Linked DNA regions of Homo sapiens: region 1 is linked to region 2. Evidence: fine-mapped expression QTL. Tissue or cell type: monocytes. Region 2 holds a variant in brackets; the other region holds the start of a gene. All regions are shown on one strand. Distances are from middle to middle.

Region 1 (8,105 bases), 670 kb after region 2:
ATATTATTCTAACTTCTAATCTTGTGGAAATCAGACCCTATCAGTACCCCTCAAAGCTCAAGTCCGTCAGTGCAGAGCCATACAACTAATACCCCTACCTATAGGGTTAGAAATGGCCACTGCTACAGGAACTGGAATAGCCAGTTTACCTACTTCATTATCCTACTACCACACTCTCAAAGGATTTCTCAAGAGAGTTTGCAAGAAATAACAAAATCTATCCAGTAAGGATAGTAACTACAATTCCAAATAGACTCTTTGGCAGCAATGACTCTCCAAAACCACCGAGGCCTAGACCTCCTCACTGCTGAGAAAGGAGGACTCTGCACCTTCTTAGGGGAAGAGTGTTGTTTTTACACTAACCAGTCAGGGATAGTATGAGATGCCACCCAACATTTATAGGAAAAGGCTTCTGAAATCAGACGCCTTTCAAACTCTTACACCAACCTCTGGAGTTGGACAACATGGCTTCTCCCCTTTCTAGGTCCTGTGGCAGCCATCTTGCTATTACTTGCCTTCGGGCCCTGTATTTTTAACCTCCTTTTCAAATTTGTTTCCTCTAGAATTGAGACCATCAAGCTACAGATGGTCTTACAAATGGAACTCCAAATGAGCTCAACTAAACTTCTACCAGGACCCCTGGACCAACCTGCTGGCCCTTTCACTGGCCTAAAGAGTTCCCCTCTGGAGGACACTACAATTGCAGGGCCCCTTCTTCACCCCTATCCAGCAGGAAGTAGCTACAGCAGTCATTGGCCAAATTCCCAACAGCAGTTGGGGTGTCCTGTTTAGAGGGGGGGGATTGAGAGGTGAAGCTGGCTGTGCTTCTGGGTCGGGTGGGGACTTGGAGAACTACTCTGTCTAAAGGATTGTAAATGCACCAATCAGGGCTCTGTGTCTAGCTAAAGGTTTGTAAACACACCAATCAGTGCTCTGTGTCTAGCTAATCGGGTAGGGGACTTGGAGAACTTTTCAGTCTAGCTAAAGGATTGTAAATGCACCAATCAGTGCTCTGTGACTAGCTAACTGGGTAGCAGACTTGGAGAACTTTTCTGTCTAGCTAAAGGATTGTAAATGCACCAATCAGCGCTCTGTGTCTAGCTAAAGGTTTGTAAACGCACCAATCAGCACTCTGTAAAAACCGACCAATTAGCACTCTGTAAAACAGACCAATCAGCACTCTGTAAAACAGAGCAATCAGCACTCTAAAATGGACTAATCAGCTCTCTGTAAAATGGACCAATCAGCAGGATGTGGGTGGGGCCAAATAAGGGAATAAAAGCAGGCCACTGGAGCCAGCAGCGGCAACCTGCTCGGGTCCCCTTCCATGCTGTGGAAGCTTTGCTCTTTCATTCTTTGCAATAAATCTTGCTGCTGCTCACTCTTTGGGTCTGCACTAACTTTATGAGCTGTAACACTGACTGTGAAGGTCTGTGGCTTCACTCCTGAAGTCAGTGAGACCACAAACCTACTGCGAGGAACAAACAACTCTCGACATGCCACCTTTAAGACCTGTAACACTCACTGCGAAGGTCTGCAGGTTGACTCCTGAAGTCAGTGAGCTCATGAACCCACTGGGAGGAAAAAACAACTCCAGACGTGCCACCTTTAAGAGCTGTAACACTCACTGCAAAGGTCTGCGGCTTCATCCCTGAAGTCAGCAAGACCACGAACCCACCAGAAGGAAGAAACTCTGGACACATCTGAACATCAGAAGGAACAAACTCTCGACATACCATCTTTAAGAACTGTAACACTCACCGCGACAGTCCGTGGCTTCATTCTTGAAGTCAGCGAGACCAAGAATCCACTGGAAGGAACCAATTCCGGACACATTTACGCAGCAGCCACGTCAGACTGGGACACTTCCTGCTTACAGAGGACTATAAAACCCCTTCCTCACTTGGGGCTGATGCTATTATAAAACCCATTCCTCACTTGGGGCTGATGCCATTTAGGCATAAACCCGTCTGCACCCAGGCGCTTATTAAAACAGCATGTTGCTCCACACCGCCTCATGTCGTGGGGGTTGTTGGTGCGTCATCGGGGTTCAAACCAATACAAGAGCCTTGCAGGTTGTTTGTAGCACTAACAAAGGATAAATGCTTGAGAAGATGGATACCCTGCTTATCCTGATGTGATTATGCATTCTATGCCATATCAAATATCTCATGTACCTATAAATACATATGCCTACTATGTACCCACAAAAATTAAAAATAAATTTTTTTGAGATGGAGTCTCGCTCTGTCACCCAGGATGGAGTGCAGTGGCGTGATCTCGGCTCACTGCAAGCTCTGCCTCCTCGATTCACGCCATTCTCCTGCCTCAGCCTCCCAAGTAGCTGGGATTACAGGCGCCTGCCACCACGCCCGGCTTATTTTTTGTATTTTTAGTAGAGACGGGATTTCACCGTGTTAGCCAGGATGGTCTTGATCTCCTGACCTCGTGATCCGCTCGCCTTGGCCTTCCAAAGTGCTGGGATTACAGGCGTGAGCCACCGCACCCGGCTAATAAAAAAATTTTTAAAGAGATTTATTCTGAGCGAAATGAGTGTCTATGGCCCATGACACTGCCCTCAAGAGATCCTGAGAGCATGTACCCAAGGTGGTGGGGGCACAGCCTAGTTTTATACATTGTAGGGGAACATGAGTCTTCAATCAAATACAGGTATAGACTAGTTCGGGCAGGAAAGGTGGGACAACTCAAAGTGGCGGCTTCCAGGTCATGGGTAAGATGAGAGACAAACGGCTACATTCTTTTGAGCCTCTGCTCTGCCTTTTACTGAACACACAATTTACGCCATGGGGCAGGCAGAGGAATAGCCACTTGTGCCTTAGTCTGGCTCAGTGAATCTGCATTTTTACATAAATACAGGGCAGAGGAAGCCGTCAGACATGCATCTGTCTCAGGTGAGCAGAAGGATGACTTGAGTTCTGTCCCTGTTCCTCACCTGCGAAGACAAGCTGTCAATTTACACTGCCAGGGTGCAATTCCACACAACTGTTTCAGGGTAAAGATGTGGAGGTCCACAGCGAATTTCCTCCTGGCCAAAGGGTGAGGGAGCTGTGTGGCTTTTTATCTTTGCAGCTGTCTTAGGAACAAAACTTAGGGGCAGGTTTGCCTGACGCAGCTCCCAGCTTGACTTTGGCTTAGTGATTTGGGGTCCCGAGATTAAATTTCCTTCCACACTATTCTCCCTAGTTTTGTGTATGTGTGAACTATTCTATTTCTGGGCACTTTTAATTTTAAAAAGTGGACAATACTGATCTGGACTTCATTTTAGGAAATGCTGGGGGAGGCTGCAGGATCAGGTGTGCCTCCGTCCTAAATACGCGAAAACGAGGCCAGCGCCCTGGTCCTCGCCCCCACGCCCGCGAACAAGCCTCAGGAGACGCTGGGGGAGGCGCGGGGGCAGCGGCGTCTCCCGGAGACACGAGCCTCGCCCAGGGGGCGTGCGGGAGCCCAGGACCCGCGGGGAGCCAGGCGCTGCCCCGCCGCCGCCCCCAGCCTGCCCAGGCCCCGCGCGCCGCCGCCGCCGCAGCTCTCGAGGTGCTGAGGGACGCCGGGAGGCCGCCGCCTAGAGGGTACTCACCGCCTTGCCCGCAGCCCAGGATCGCCGCCTTCTGGGACTCGGGCTGCGGCATCTTCTCTCCCGCCACAGCCCCAGTCCGACCCGCAGGAGCGGCGCGGGCTGAACTGCCCCGGGGCCCAGCAGCCAGGCGTCGCGCAGGCGCTGGGCGCAGTGGCGGCCGCGCCTCCTCAGGCCCAGGGCCCTCGCCCAGTCCCCGAGCCGCTGCCTCCGCCCAGCGCCGCGCGTCCGCCGGCGCCGCGTGACAGGCGGCCCCGCCCCCGCGCCGCGGTGACGAAACCTCTCGCTGCCCTGACGTCACCGGCCGCCGCGCGCTGAGTCCTCCCTAGCGTTCGCGCAGAGGCGCCGCGCGTGGCCTGGCTCCTGTTGTCTGTCACCCGCGGTCTCAAAAGACCCCATTAATGACAAATGCCCTGCCTGTGGCCCCGGCTACTCCGGAGGCTGAGGCGGGAGCAGCGCTTGAGCCCGGGAGCTCTGCGCTGTATGCGCTGTGCCCATTGCGCGGCGACACGCATCTGTGTTCCGCATCGGTGTGGTGACCTCCCGGGAGCAGGGACCACCAGGTTCCCCAAGGAGTGGGGAACTGGCCCAGCTCGGAAACCGGGCAGGGCAAAACTCCTGTGCTGATCGGTAGCGGGATCGCGCCTGTGAATAGCCACTGCCCTCCAGCCTGGGCAATACAGCGAGACCCCATAAGTGAAAAAAAAAAAAAAAGACAAATGCCCTTAAACATATTAAAAGAAGTTAAACGCCACTTGTGATAGAAGAAAATGTAGATTAAGGTGTAAAGAGAGAAGTGGTGAAAAAAACACTCATACCTTGGTGATAATAGTGCAATGTATACAAATACCATAAAAGGGGAATTGGCAATTTTTAAGAAAAATGGTGTGGGCATTCATCTTTGGCCAATAATGCCAAGTTATATTGAAGAATATCTTAATACTAATCTTCTTTGCATTTCTGAAATAAATCCCACTTGGTTAAGAATATTTTTGAACTTTTTTAAAGAACTCATTGCTTCACAATTAAAGTCTGATGGGGTACACGCGTAGCAATGGAGGAACTTCTACAGCTACTATAAATTAAAGAGCACCACCTGAACCAAAGTAGTGGCCTTCTTGAGCTGAACTGAGCTAACCACATTCCCCAGCCCCTCTTCCACAGATACCCCATGGGGTTGTCAGGGTGTAGGGGATGCCATGTTGTACCACCCAGGTTTCCCCTTAAGGACTGAGGACTCATTTCTCCAGTTGTTGGGTGTGTAGGCCGCTGATGGCCCCCAGCTGAGTCTTGTGGCCACTTCCCTCAGCCAAAGAGAACTGCTGCTGGGTGCCAAGTTGAATGCTTTTGACTCCTTCTACCATGCTTGTGTCTTGATTGGAGATTGACAGATATTTCAGGTACTGGTTTCTCTTGCAAGGGCAGTGCAGACAGCACACAGGTATCTTTGCCCAGTTTCCTTCAATGGTTGCAGCTCATGTAAAATATACATAGTATAATATCAAATAAGCGTCATTGGGGATCAATCCTGCTGGGATCCCCCTCAGAAACTATTCACAGCAGTGGCAGGCAAACTAGGGCAAAGTCTACTAGGTATATTTAAAAGTGTATTACAAGTTTATTTAAATACATAAATATGTTTCCAGAAAGTAATCCTTCCAACTACCTAAACTAGTAATGAAAAATGTTAAATATCACCTTAAATATGTATAAGGGGATACTAAGTTCTTGTATTTAAACCTTATTATTTTAGTATATACTCAAGCAAAAGAGTTTGAAGACCAGACCTTTAGGGCCTCACTACTCAAATGGTGGTCCAGCAACAAGCGACACCAACGTCACCTGGAGTGTGTTAGAAATGGGGAGTCTTGTGCTCCACCTACTTAATTAAAATCTGCATTTTTACCAAGATTTCCAGGTGATTTATACACAAATTAACATTTGAAATCATGCTCTAGGATTAATCAGGGCATGTAAATTTCCATTGTTTCATCTTCTCCTGACCCTTGATAGTATCAGATATTTAAATATTTGCCAACCTGATGAGTATGAGATGCATCTGTTTATTACTTTAAATACTATTCTACCTGATTAATGTGCAATAATTACTTAACCATTATTCTCGTAATTGAGGATTTGGGTTAGCTCCAATTTTTCACTATCATACAGAATGACACTAAAATGCTCTTTTCAGCGTATCATTCTGGTTAAACACAATCTTTGAGGCCACGCTGATTAGGATCATGTAAGGGCCGTGTTATTGTTTGTCCTTGGATACAGTTGCCAGATGAAATACAGGATGGCCTGAAATTTGAATTCCAGATTAAGAATAATTTTGTGGTTTAAGTATATCCTGTGCAATATGTGAGAGGCTTGTCTTCATCTGTGCTGCCATAATAAAATACCTGAGACTAGGTAGTTTAAAAACAAATTTGTTTTCCCACTCTCCTGGAGGCTGGGAAGTACAAGATCCAGCAGCCGTATCTGGTAGGCTGCTGGTGAGGGCTTTGTGCTACATCATAACGTGGCAGAGAATCGGAAGAGGAAGCGCGCACTGGCTAAAGGGGCAATGTTACTTATTAACAACCCGCTCTCAAGGTACCTAATCCAGTCTCAAGAGACTGGGAACTCTCAGTGACTGCGTTAATCTTTTCATGGGGGGCTGGTCCCTCATGGCTCAAATGCCTCTTAAAGGTCCTACTCTGTCTCAACACTGTTACCCTGGGGTCCAAGCCTCAACATGAATTTTGGTGGGGATAAAAGGTATTCAAACTGTAGTGCTGTTGCTTTGTCAGTTGTTTCAACATGAATTATGGAAGACACATTCAGAATGTAGCCATATGTACAGTAAAATGTTATTGTCTATTTGAAATTCAAGTTTAACCAGGCATCCTGTATTTTTATTAGCCAAATAGGGCAACGTTAACCTGGGCACATTCTAACCATCGTTTTCTCATCTATGAAATGAGGATAGCAGTAGAACTCATAAAGTTGTTGTATGAATGAAAGGAGATAATCCATGCAGACTACTTATAACAGAGTATGAAACGTAGTAAAAGCTCAGCAAATGTCAGCTCTTCTTAGTTGTTGTTTCATACAGGTGTGTCTTGGGATAAATTCCTAGAAGGATGTTTTAGTTACAGAACTCCTGGGCTTAATTTCAGACTTGTTTGAGCATTCCATCATACCAAAAACTGTTTTGTAAGAAACCCTAAGCAGGTTACCAGATACTTTTCAACTAGCTTCAAAATACAAATCAGATTTTTAAATTTCCACACAAAAACAAAAAATTGCCATCTATAGGCAAGTATCAATTTCCCTTTAATCACACCAAATATTTGGATATTGATTCTGATTTCTTTTCTATTTTAGGGTCAACTGAAGCAATATTTAAGAAGATACTGTCCAAGGGACATGCTGAACAATTTCTAGGACTTATCTGTGTTATCTAGTACCTAAACTAAATTACATTACAAAACTAAGACTTAATATTAGGCCCACGGCTTTTAACAAAAGAGAACACTCCTGTCTTTTGCTTTTGGGAAAGCTGATATTTACAGCATCCATTCTTTATGCTTACCAGAAAAAAAATATACTTTTTAATGTTACATATATATCATTTATATATTACATATAATAATTATATATAACATATATATATTCTCAAATTTCAACTAGAAAAAAACTGTTACTTTAAGAAGATACTCCATATTTATACTACTATAATTCTCTTTTATTTTTTCAGCTACAAGATTTCTATTTTGCTTTTTGTTTGTTTGTTTTTTGAGACAGTCTCTGTCACCCAGGCTGGAGTGCAGTGGTGTGATCTTGGTCTTGGTCTCGGCTCACTGCAACCTCCACCTCCCATGTTCAAGCGATTCTTGTGCCTCCCAAATAGCTGGGATTACAGGCACGTGCCACTGAGCCGGGTTCTGTTTTGCTTTTTTTTTTTTTTTCCTGACGGAGTCTCACTCCGTCGCCCAGGCTAGAGTGCAGTGGTGCAATCTCAGCTCACTGCAACCTCTGCCTCCCAGGTTCAAGCAATTCTCCTGCCTCAGCCTCCTGAGTAGCTAGGATTACAGGCGTGCGCCACCATGCCCAGCTAATTTTTTTGTATTTTTAGTAGAGACCGGGTTTCACCATGTTGGCCAGGCTGATCTCAAACTCCTGATCTCGTGATCCACCCGCCTCAGCCTCCCAAAGTGCTGGGATTACAGACGTGAGCCACCGCGCCTGGCCTGTTTTGCATTTTATCATAATTTTAGTAGACTCATGGGTTTATTATGATTAATTTTTAAATGACTTTCTAGAGGCAGGAAAGGTATAAATAATATATGGGCCAAGAATACAATCAAGCGTGGCACTCGTTTTGTGCTGCCAGATCAACCTTTTAAAGGATCAATCAAGTGGCTGTCTGTAATAGATCAGCTCATGTCTGTCTAGCAATAGATTTTATGCAGTATTTTGCTAAATAGATAGGTATAAAGGGGTTATTTGCGGCCGGGCGCAGTAG
Region 2 (8,105 bases):
GGTCTCGATCTCCTGACCCCGTGATCCGCCCGCCTCGGCCTCCCAAAGTGCTGGAATTACAGACGTGAGCCACTGTGCCTGGCCAGTTCAATTTTAGGTACAACTTTCTGTCAATTTGAGTGCTCAAAATGAAATTTAATACTAGCCTGGGCAACATGATGAAACCCTCTCTCTATAAAAAAATGCAAAAATTAGCTGGGCATGGTGGCACACACCTGCAGTCCCAGCTACTCAGGAAGCTGAGATGGGAGGATCACCTGAGGCTGGGGAGCTTGAGGCTGCAGTGAGCTGAGACCACTGCACTCCAGCCTGGGTGACAGAGTGAGACCTTATCTCAAAAGAAAAAAAAATGGAATTTGATCCACAATTATGTTGTCATTTTTATTGTTGCTGTTGTTTGGGACAGGATCTCGAACTGTCACCCAGGCTGGAGGGCAGTGGTGTGATCATAGCTCACGGCAGCCTTGAACTCCTGGGCTGAAGCCATCCTCAGTCTCCTGGGTAGCTGGGACTACAGATGCGTGACACCATGCCTGGCTAATTTATTTTATTTTTTGTAGAGATGAGGTCTTGCAATGTTGCCCAGGCTGGTATGATCTCCTGGCCTCAAGTGTCCTCCCTCCTTGGCCTCCTGATGTACTGTGTTAGCCACCATGCCCAGCCTATTGTCATTTTGTATAAAAATATATGTGTGGTGCTGGTTGAAGGAAGTGTGTTTTATCATATTCCACGTGTACAAAACCCTCCTATTAAAAACACATGGAGGCTGGGCGCAGGGGCTCACGCCTGTAATCCCAGCACTTTGGGAGGCCGAGGCAGGCGGATCTCGAGGTCGGGAGATTGAGACCATCCTGGCTAACATGGTGAAACTCTGTCTCTACTAAAAAAATACAAAAAATTAGCTGGGCATGGTGGCGGGCGCCTGTAGTCCCAGCTACTCGGGAGGCTGAGGTAGGAGAATGGCGTGAACCCAGGAGGTGGAGCTTGCAGTGAGCCGAGATGGCGCCACTGCACTCCAGCCTGGGCGACAGAGCGAGACTCCATCTCAAACACACACACACACACACACACACACACACACACACACACAGAACCTGACAATGGTTGCCACAGGGAGACTGAAGAAGGGTGGGGAATGGCCCGCCCAGCACACTCTTTTGTTCTGCATGTATTTTATTTTATTTTATTTTATTTTATTTTACGTATATATATTTTTTCTTTTTTCTTTTTCTTTTTTTTGAGACAGAGTCCCACTCTGTTGCCCAGTCTGGAGTGCAGTGATGTGATCTTGGCTTACTGCAACCTCCACCTCCCAGGTTCAAGCGATTCTTCTGCCTCAGCTTCCTGAGTAGCTGGGACTACAGGCACGCACCACTAGGCCTGGCTAATTTTTGTATTTTTAGTAGAGACGGGGTTTCATCATATTGGCCAGGCTGGTCTCGAACTCCTAACCTCGTGATCTGCCCGCCTCTGCCTCCCAGAGTGATGGGATTACAGGCATGAGCCACCGCGCCTGGCCACACCCGGCTAATTTTTTTGTATTGTAGTAGAGACTGGGTTTCCCCATGTTGGCCAGGCTGGTCTGGAACTCTTGACCTCAGATGATCCACCCGCCTCGGCCTCTCAAAGTGCTGGGATTACAGGCGTGAGCCACCACGCCCGGCCTTATTTATTTATTTATTTTGAGACAGGGTCTTGCTCTGTCTACCAGACTGAAGTGTGGTGGCGCGATCTCGACTCACTGCAACCTCTGCCTCCCGGGTTCAAGTGATCCTCCTGCCTCAGCTTCCTGAGTAGTTGAGATTACAGGCACGTGCCACCAGGCCCAGCTAATTTTTTTGTATTTTTAGTAGAGAAGGGGTTTCACCATGTTGGCCAGGCTGGTCTCGAACTCCTGACCTCAATTGATCCGCCTGCCTCAGCCCCCCAAAGTGCTGGAATTACAGGCGTGAGCCACCATGCCAGGCTCTGCGTGTATTTTAATATACAATAAAACAAAAATAAAGGAATGTCCTAACAGTTTTTCTGACTTTGACAGCACTTAAACAGGGTCTTGTCAACCAGGAGGCCCAAATTTTTCTTTTTTTTTTTTTTTTGAGAGGGAGTCTTGCCCTGTCGCCCAGGCTGGAGTGCAGTGGCATGATCTCGGCTCACTGCAAGCTCTGCCTCCCAGGTTCACGCCATTCTGTTGCCTCAGCCTCCCGAGTAGCTGGGACTACAGGCGCCCACCACCATGCCCGGCTAATTTTTTTTTGTATTTTTAGTAGAGACGGGGTTTCACCGTGTTAGCCAGGATGGTCTCGATCTCCTGACCTCGTGATCCGCCCACCTCGGACTCCCAAAGTGCTGGGATTACAGGCGTGAGCCACCGCGCCCGGCCCAGGAGACGCAAATTTTTAAAAGGAATTCCTACTTTGAGTAAGGATGGGGTCCTGATGGTATCACTAAGTTCCCTATTAATTTAGAGATGCTATTCGTAGGTTATTAGGTAGAGGCAGAAGAGGCGAGAGAGGCAAGGGAAGTGAGGTTGTCTTGTTCTGCCCCGTTTCCTTCCAGAGGAGGGGAGAAAAGGGCCTTCTCCTCTCAGGAGCACAGCAATGCTGGATGAGCAGTGCTTGTTGGACCGAGGCAGGAGAGAAGGCGCGACCCTGTGTTGGTTTTTTCCTTATGCTTTTCTGCTTGTGCATTTAATCCCTTTTTCAGTTTCAAATCAGCACCATAGCAGATCTTACCAACAAACATTATCCCTGTCCTGAAGCAGTTGTCAAGCCAGGGAGAGACATAGGATCCACTCTGGGGAAATGCCACCCTGGCTTTGGCTTCTGGAGGCTGCAATTACCTGTTAGGAGAGGTATCAAATTCCACTTCCCGAGGCTGCAGTGAGCCGAGATTGCACCACTGCACTCCAGCCTGGGCGACAGAGCAAGACTCTGTCTCAAAAAAAAAGAAAAAAAAAAAAACTCCACTTCCCTCTTTGCCCACAGAAGCCAGTGTGAAATCCCCTTCCCTTGCATTCCTTTGGGCTGGTCCCATTGAGAAAGAGGCTGGCACTGGACAAGGAGATGAAAGCAGACTGCCCCAGCTACAGTGTCTCACCAAGCTCCTTCCAGCTGCTGTGGCCCTGTCCAGGTCTGCTGACCTCTGGTGATGGCCAATGCCATCTTGCCTCCTTAGCTCATGCCCACTTTGGCTGAGTTACTGTGGCCCAGGCTTAGAATGCTGTGTTTTGTTTTGATGCCTAACTCTTCACAGTCCTTTTTATAAGGTCACCTGTCTTGCTTGAATCTTCAACTTGGTGCTGCTGACACCCCTGATGTGACATATGCTGTGCACAACTCCAGGTCACAGAGGGAGTAAAAAACAAGTTCTTTCCTACCTGATGAAATACCTGATTACTTTATGCTTTGCATAAAGAGACATTTGCCTCAGGGAACAAATAAGACATAAATACTGAAAATGGGATTGCCCTTTAAAAAGGAGGATGTCTGCTCAGTCTAATTTGGGGAATATCTCTTTTATCTCCATTGTTCAGGCTGAATACACAGTTTGTGAATTAACCTGATCTTTTCCTTTATCTTGCTTGGCCATCTGCCTTGCTTCTCAGTTATTTAGAAAGTACTTTAATAGCATCTTCACCAATGACTAAAGAAACAGAAAGTGACATTAAAAAAAAAAA[G/AG]GCAACCCTGTATTTTGTTTATTTACTATTAGCTTGTTTGGTAAGAATAAAATTTTCATAAGGATTGAGCTTGATATCTCTGAAAATGGCAGACTAGATAATGAGGAACCACCCTTCCACTGAAAACAACTGCAAGGCAGCAGAAAATCTAAGAATAATTTGCTTTAAGGCATTGGGGGAGCTCACAACACAATAAAGAATTAAAGAGTTACAGGACTGAGATCCACAGAAGTAAATCCAAGAAGATGAGCCCAGCTTTAGGGCTACTGTTCTCCCAGGGCGTTTAATGAGGTCTCGAAAGATTGAGAAGCTGAGCAGATGTTTCAACAGCCTGGTGAGGAGGACCTACAAATGAGAGGAAATCTTGGGGGAAAAAAATCATGCTTTGGGTTGGGAAACTCAAGGGCTAGACCCTAGGAATAAGGGTGAACTAAAGCCCAGCTTCCAACCATCTCAAGGCCTATATTAGATTAACACTGGAATTACCAGTGTCCCCAGGCTCCTGACAAAAGCATATGTAGATCTTCCCTAGCAAAAGGTAACATCAGAGTAGACTCAAATTATTTCTTCAATAATTAAGGCAATTATTACTTCTACTTATTTGACTCCTCATGAGCCTATTTATTTTTTATTTTTACATTTTTACAGAATGTCTTGCACACAATGAAAAGTAAATAGGAAGGCCAGGCGCCTGTAATCGCAGCACTTTGGGAAGCTGAGACCGGTGGATCACTTGAGGTCAGGACACCTGTAGTCCCAGCTACTCGGGGGACTGAGGCACGAGAGTCACTTGAACCTGGGAGGCGGAGGTTGCAGTGAGCCAAGATCGCTCCATTGCACTCCAGCTTAGGCGACAAAGTGAGACTCTGTCTCAAAAATAAATAAATAAATAGGTTCATGAGGAGTAAAGTAAGTAGAAATAATAATTGTCTTAAGTATTGAAGAAATAACTTGAGTCTACTATTGTGTCCGGAATTGGTGGGTTCTTGGTCTCACTGACTTCAAGAATGAAGCCGTGAACCCTCACGGTGAGTGTTAACAGCTTTTAAGGCAGCTTGTCTGGAGTTGTTCGTTCCTCCTGGTGGGTTCGTGGTCTCGCTGTCTTCAGGAGTGAAGCTGCAGACCTTCGCGGTGAGTGTTACAGCTCATAAAGGCAGTGTGGACCCAAAGAGTGAGCAGCAGCAGGATTTATTGCAAAGAGCGAAAGAACAAAGCTTCCACAGTGTGGAAGGGGACCCGAGCGGGTTGCTACTGCTGGCTCGGGCAGCCTGCTTTTATTCTCTTATCTGGCCCCACCCACATCCTGCTGATTGGTAGAGCCAAGTGGTCTGTTTTGACAGGGCGCTGATTGGTGCCTTTACAATCCCTGAGCTAGACACAAATGTTCTCCACGTCCCCACCAGATTAGCTAGATACAGAGTGTCGACTGGTGCATTCACAAACCCTGAGCTAGACAGAGGGTGCTGATTGGTGTGTTTACAAACCTTGAGCTAGATACAGAGTGCCGATTGACGTATTTACAATCCCTGAGCTAGACATAAAGGTTCTCCACGTCCCCACCAGACTCAGGATCCCAGCTGGCTTCACCCAGTGGATCCTGCACTGGGGCTGGCAGGCAGCTCCACTATGATGTTATCTTTTTTTTTTTTTTTTTTTTTTTTGAGGTGGAGTCTCACACTATTGCCTGGGCTGGAGTGCAATTGCGCCATCTTGGCTAACTGCAACCTCTGCCTCCTGGGTTCAAGTGTTTCTCCTGCCTCAGCCTCCCAGGTAGCTGGGATTACAGGTACACACCACCACACCAGGCTAATTTTTTGTCTCTCTACTAGAGACAAAATTTTTGTCGTCTCTCTACTAGAGATGGAGTTTCACTATGTTGGCCAGCATGGTCTCAAACTCCTGACCTCGTGATCCACCCACCTTGGCCTCCCAAAGTGCTGGGATTACAGGCGTGAGCCACAGCACCCGGCCATGATGTTATCTTTTGCTAGAGAAGATCTACATATGGTTTTCGCAGGAGCCTGGGGACACTGGCAAGTCCAGTGTTAATTTAACATAGGCCTTGAGATGGTTGGAAGATGGGCTCTAGTTCATTCTTATTCCATTCAATATTCAACACATTCATTCTTTATTGTTTTTGAGACCGAGTTTCAGTCTTGTTGCCTAAGGCTAGTGTCCAATGGCACGATCTCAGCTCACTGCAACTTCCGCCTCCCTGGTTCAAGCGATTCTCCTGCCTCAGCGTCCCCAGTAGCTGGAACTACAGGAACACACCACCATACCCGGCTAATTTTTGTATTTTTAGTAGAGACTGGGTTTTTTGTTTTTTTGTTTTTTGTTTTTTTTTGAGACAGAATTTCACTTTGTTGCCCAGGCTGGAGTTGCAGTGAGCCGAGATCGTGCCATTGCACTCCAGCCTGGGCGACAAGAGCAAAACTTCGTATCAAAAAAAAAAAAAAAATTTCTTCATATTTGAGTTCATGTCCCATATACTTTGTAAAACCAGGTTATTTGCTGTTTTTGCTTTGCTATTGAATTGTAGGAGTTCTTTATATATTTAGAAATCAACCCTAATCCAGTGTTCACTGTAGCATTATTCAGAATAGCAATGCTATGGAAGCAACCTAAATGTCCATGGATGGATGAGTGGATAAAGCAAGGGTGGTATATACATACAATGCAATATCGTGGAGCCTTAAAACAAAAGGAAATCCTGCAATATGCAAGGACATGGACAAAACTGGAGAACATTATGCTAAGTGAATTAAGCTAGTCACAGAAGGACAAATACTGCATGACTACATGCATATGAGACATCTAAAATAGTCAAACTCAAAGAATCAGAGAGTAGAATGATGGCTGCCAAGAGCTGGCGGAGGGGGAATGGGGAGCAGCTAATTAACAGGCATAAAGTTTTGATGATGGGGGCTGAGTGAGTTCTGGAGATCTGCTGTGCAACATTGTCCCTATAGTTAACAGTACCCTATCCAGTACCCTATCCACTTAGAATGTATTAGGAGCGTAGCTCTCATGTTAAGTGATCTTATATTAAAATAAAGTTTTTAAAATTTTACTTTTTCTTCAATTCATTTTGAAGTTTCTGCTTTTTTTTTTTTTTTTTTTTTTGGAAATGGGGTCTTGCTCCTGTGGCCCAGGCTGGAGTGCAGTGGCATGATCTGTGTTCACTGCAACCTCTGCCTCCTGGGTTCAAGTAATTCTCCTTCCTCAGCCTCCCCAGTAGCTGGGATTACAGGCACATGCCACCACCCCTGGCTAATTTTTGTACTTTCAGTAGAGATGGGGTTCCACCATGTTGGCCAGGCTGGTCTCAAACTCCTGTCCTCAAGTGATCCGCCCCCCTCAGCCTCCCAAAGTGCTGAGATTACAGGCATGAACCACTGTACCTGGTCTGAAGTTTCTGCTTTCAACACAATTTTGTGAAATTAGAAGGGAAGATTCTGCTCTCAAAGAGGTTATAGTCTTTTTTTTTTGCCCACTGCAACCTCTGCCTCCCGGGTTCAAATGATTCTCCTGCCTCAGCCTCCTGAGTAGCTGAGATTACAGGCGCCCACCACCACGCCCGGCTAATTTTTTGTATCTTTAGTAGAGACGGGTTTCACCGTGTTGGCCAGGCTGGCCTCGAACCTCTGACCTCGTGATCCGCCTGCCACGGCCTCCCAAAGTGCTGGGATTAGAGGCATGATCCACCACGCCTGACCTGAGGTTATAGTCTTATCAGAGAGACATTTAGGGATTTTTTTTTTTTTTTCAGATAGAGTCTCACTCTGTCTCCCAGGCTGGAGTGCCAAGGTGCGATCTCGGCTCACTGCAACCTCTGCCTTCTGGGTCCAAGCAATTCTCCTGCTTCAGTCTCTCGAGTAGCTGGGAATACAGGCACCTGCCACTACACCCAGCTAATTTTTGTATTTTTAGTAGAGACGGGGTTTTACCATGTTAGTCAGGCTGGTCTCAAACTCCTGACCTCAGGTGATCAGCCTGCCTCGGCCTCCCAAAGTGCTGGGATTACAGGCGTGAGCCACCGCACCCGACCCATTTAAGGAATTTTTAAAAATACAGCAAGGTAGACTGACTGTTGAAGTTGCAGTGAAACTGACAACTGCTATTCCTCCGGTTGCATTTGCCATTTCATCGTTCTAATCTATACTGTCACTCCATTTCCCAATTTCCAATTGACACCCTTTGGATGTACATTTTGGGTTGATGCCTGAGGACATTTAAAAATAGTTTAGTGCTGAGCATAAGCTAAATATATTCCCATAATTCCTATGCTAATCAATTATTTATCCCTTACAAATGCGAAGATCAAAAATGAAAAAAAGTTATATATTTCAGTTTGACAGGAGGTCTTGGGAGACTAGCAAGAATAAAAAATACTTTCAAGTCTAAAGTGAGTAAAATGGGTAAAAAT

Alleles and levels. Positions count from the first base shown, and alleles are read on the strand shown. Sizes are in standard deviations (SD) of each study's normalised expression.
For the expression in monocytes of the gene that starts at base 3,806 in region 1, AG is the low allele of the variant in region 2 and G is the other (moderate effect, 0.50 SD a copy in Quach 2016).

Evidence for each region. PIP is the estimated chance that this variant, and not a neighbour inherited with it, causes the effect.
Region 1: GALNT11 starts here. The variant in region 2 is fine-mapped to the expression of GALNT11 in monocytes (Quach 2016, PIP 0.94).

Annotation. Positions count from the first base shown.
Region 1 is chr7:152,021,375-152,029,479 of GRCh38, reverse strand. GALNT11 (polypeptide N-acetylgalactosaminyltransferase 11) reads right to left here and starts at 3,806. Exons shown (of 12, transcript NM_022087.4): 1 at 3,596-3,806. RefSeq lists silencers at 3,272-3,971, 4,822-5,116.
Region 2 is chr7:152,694,725-152,702,829 of GRCh38, reverse strand. No RefSeq gene overlaps it. Among named protein-coding and RNA genes, the nearest start is that of XRCC2, 23 kb to the right of the region's middle. The variant G/AG (reference allele first, on the strand shown) is at 3,677.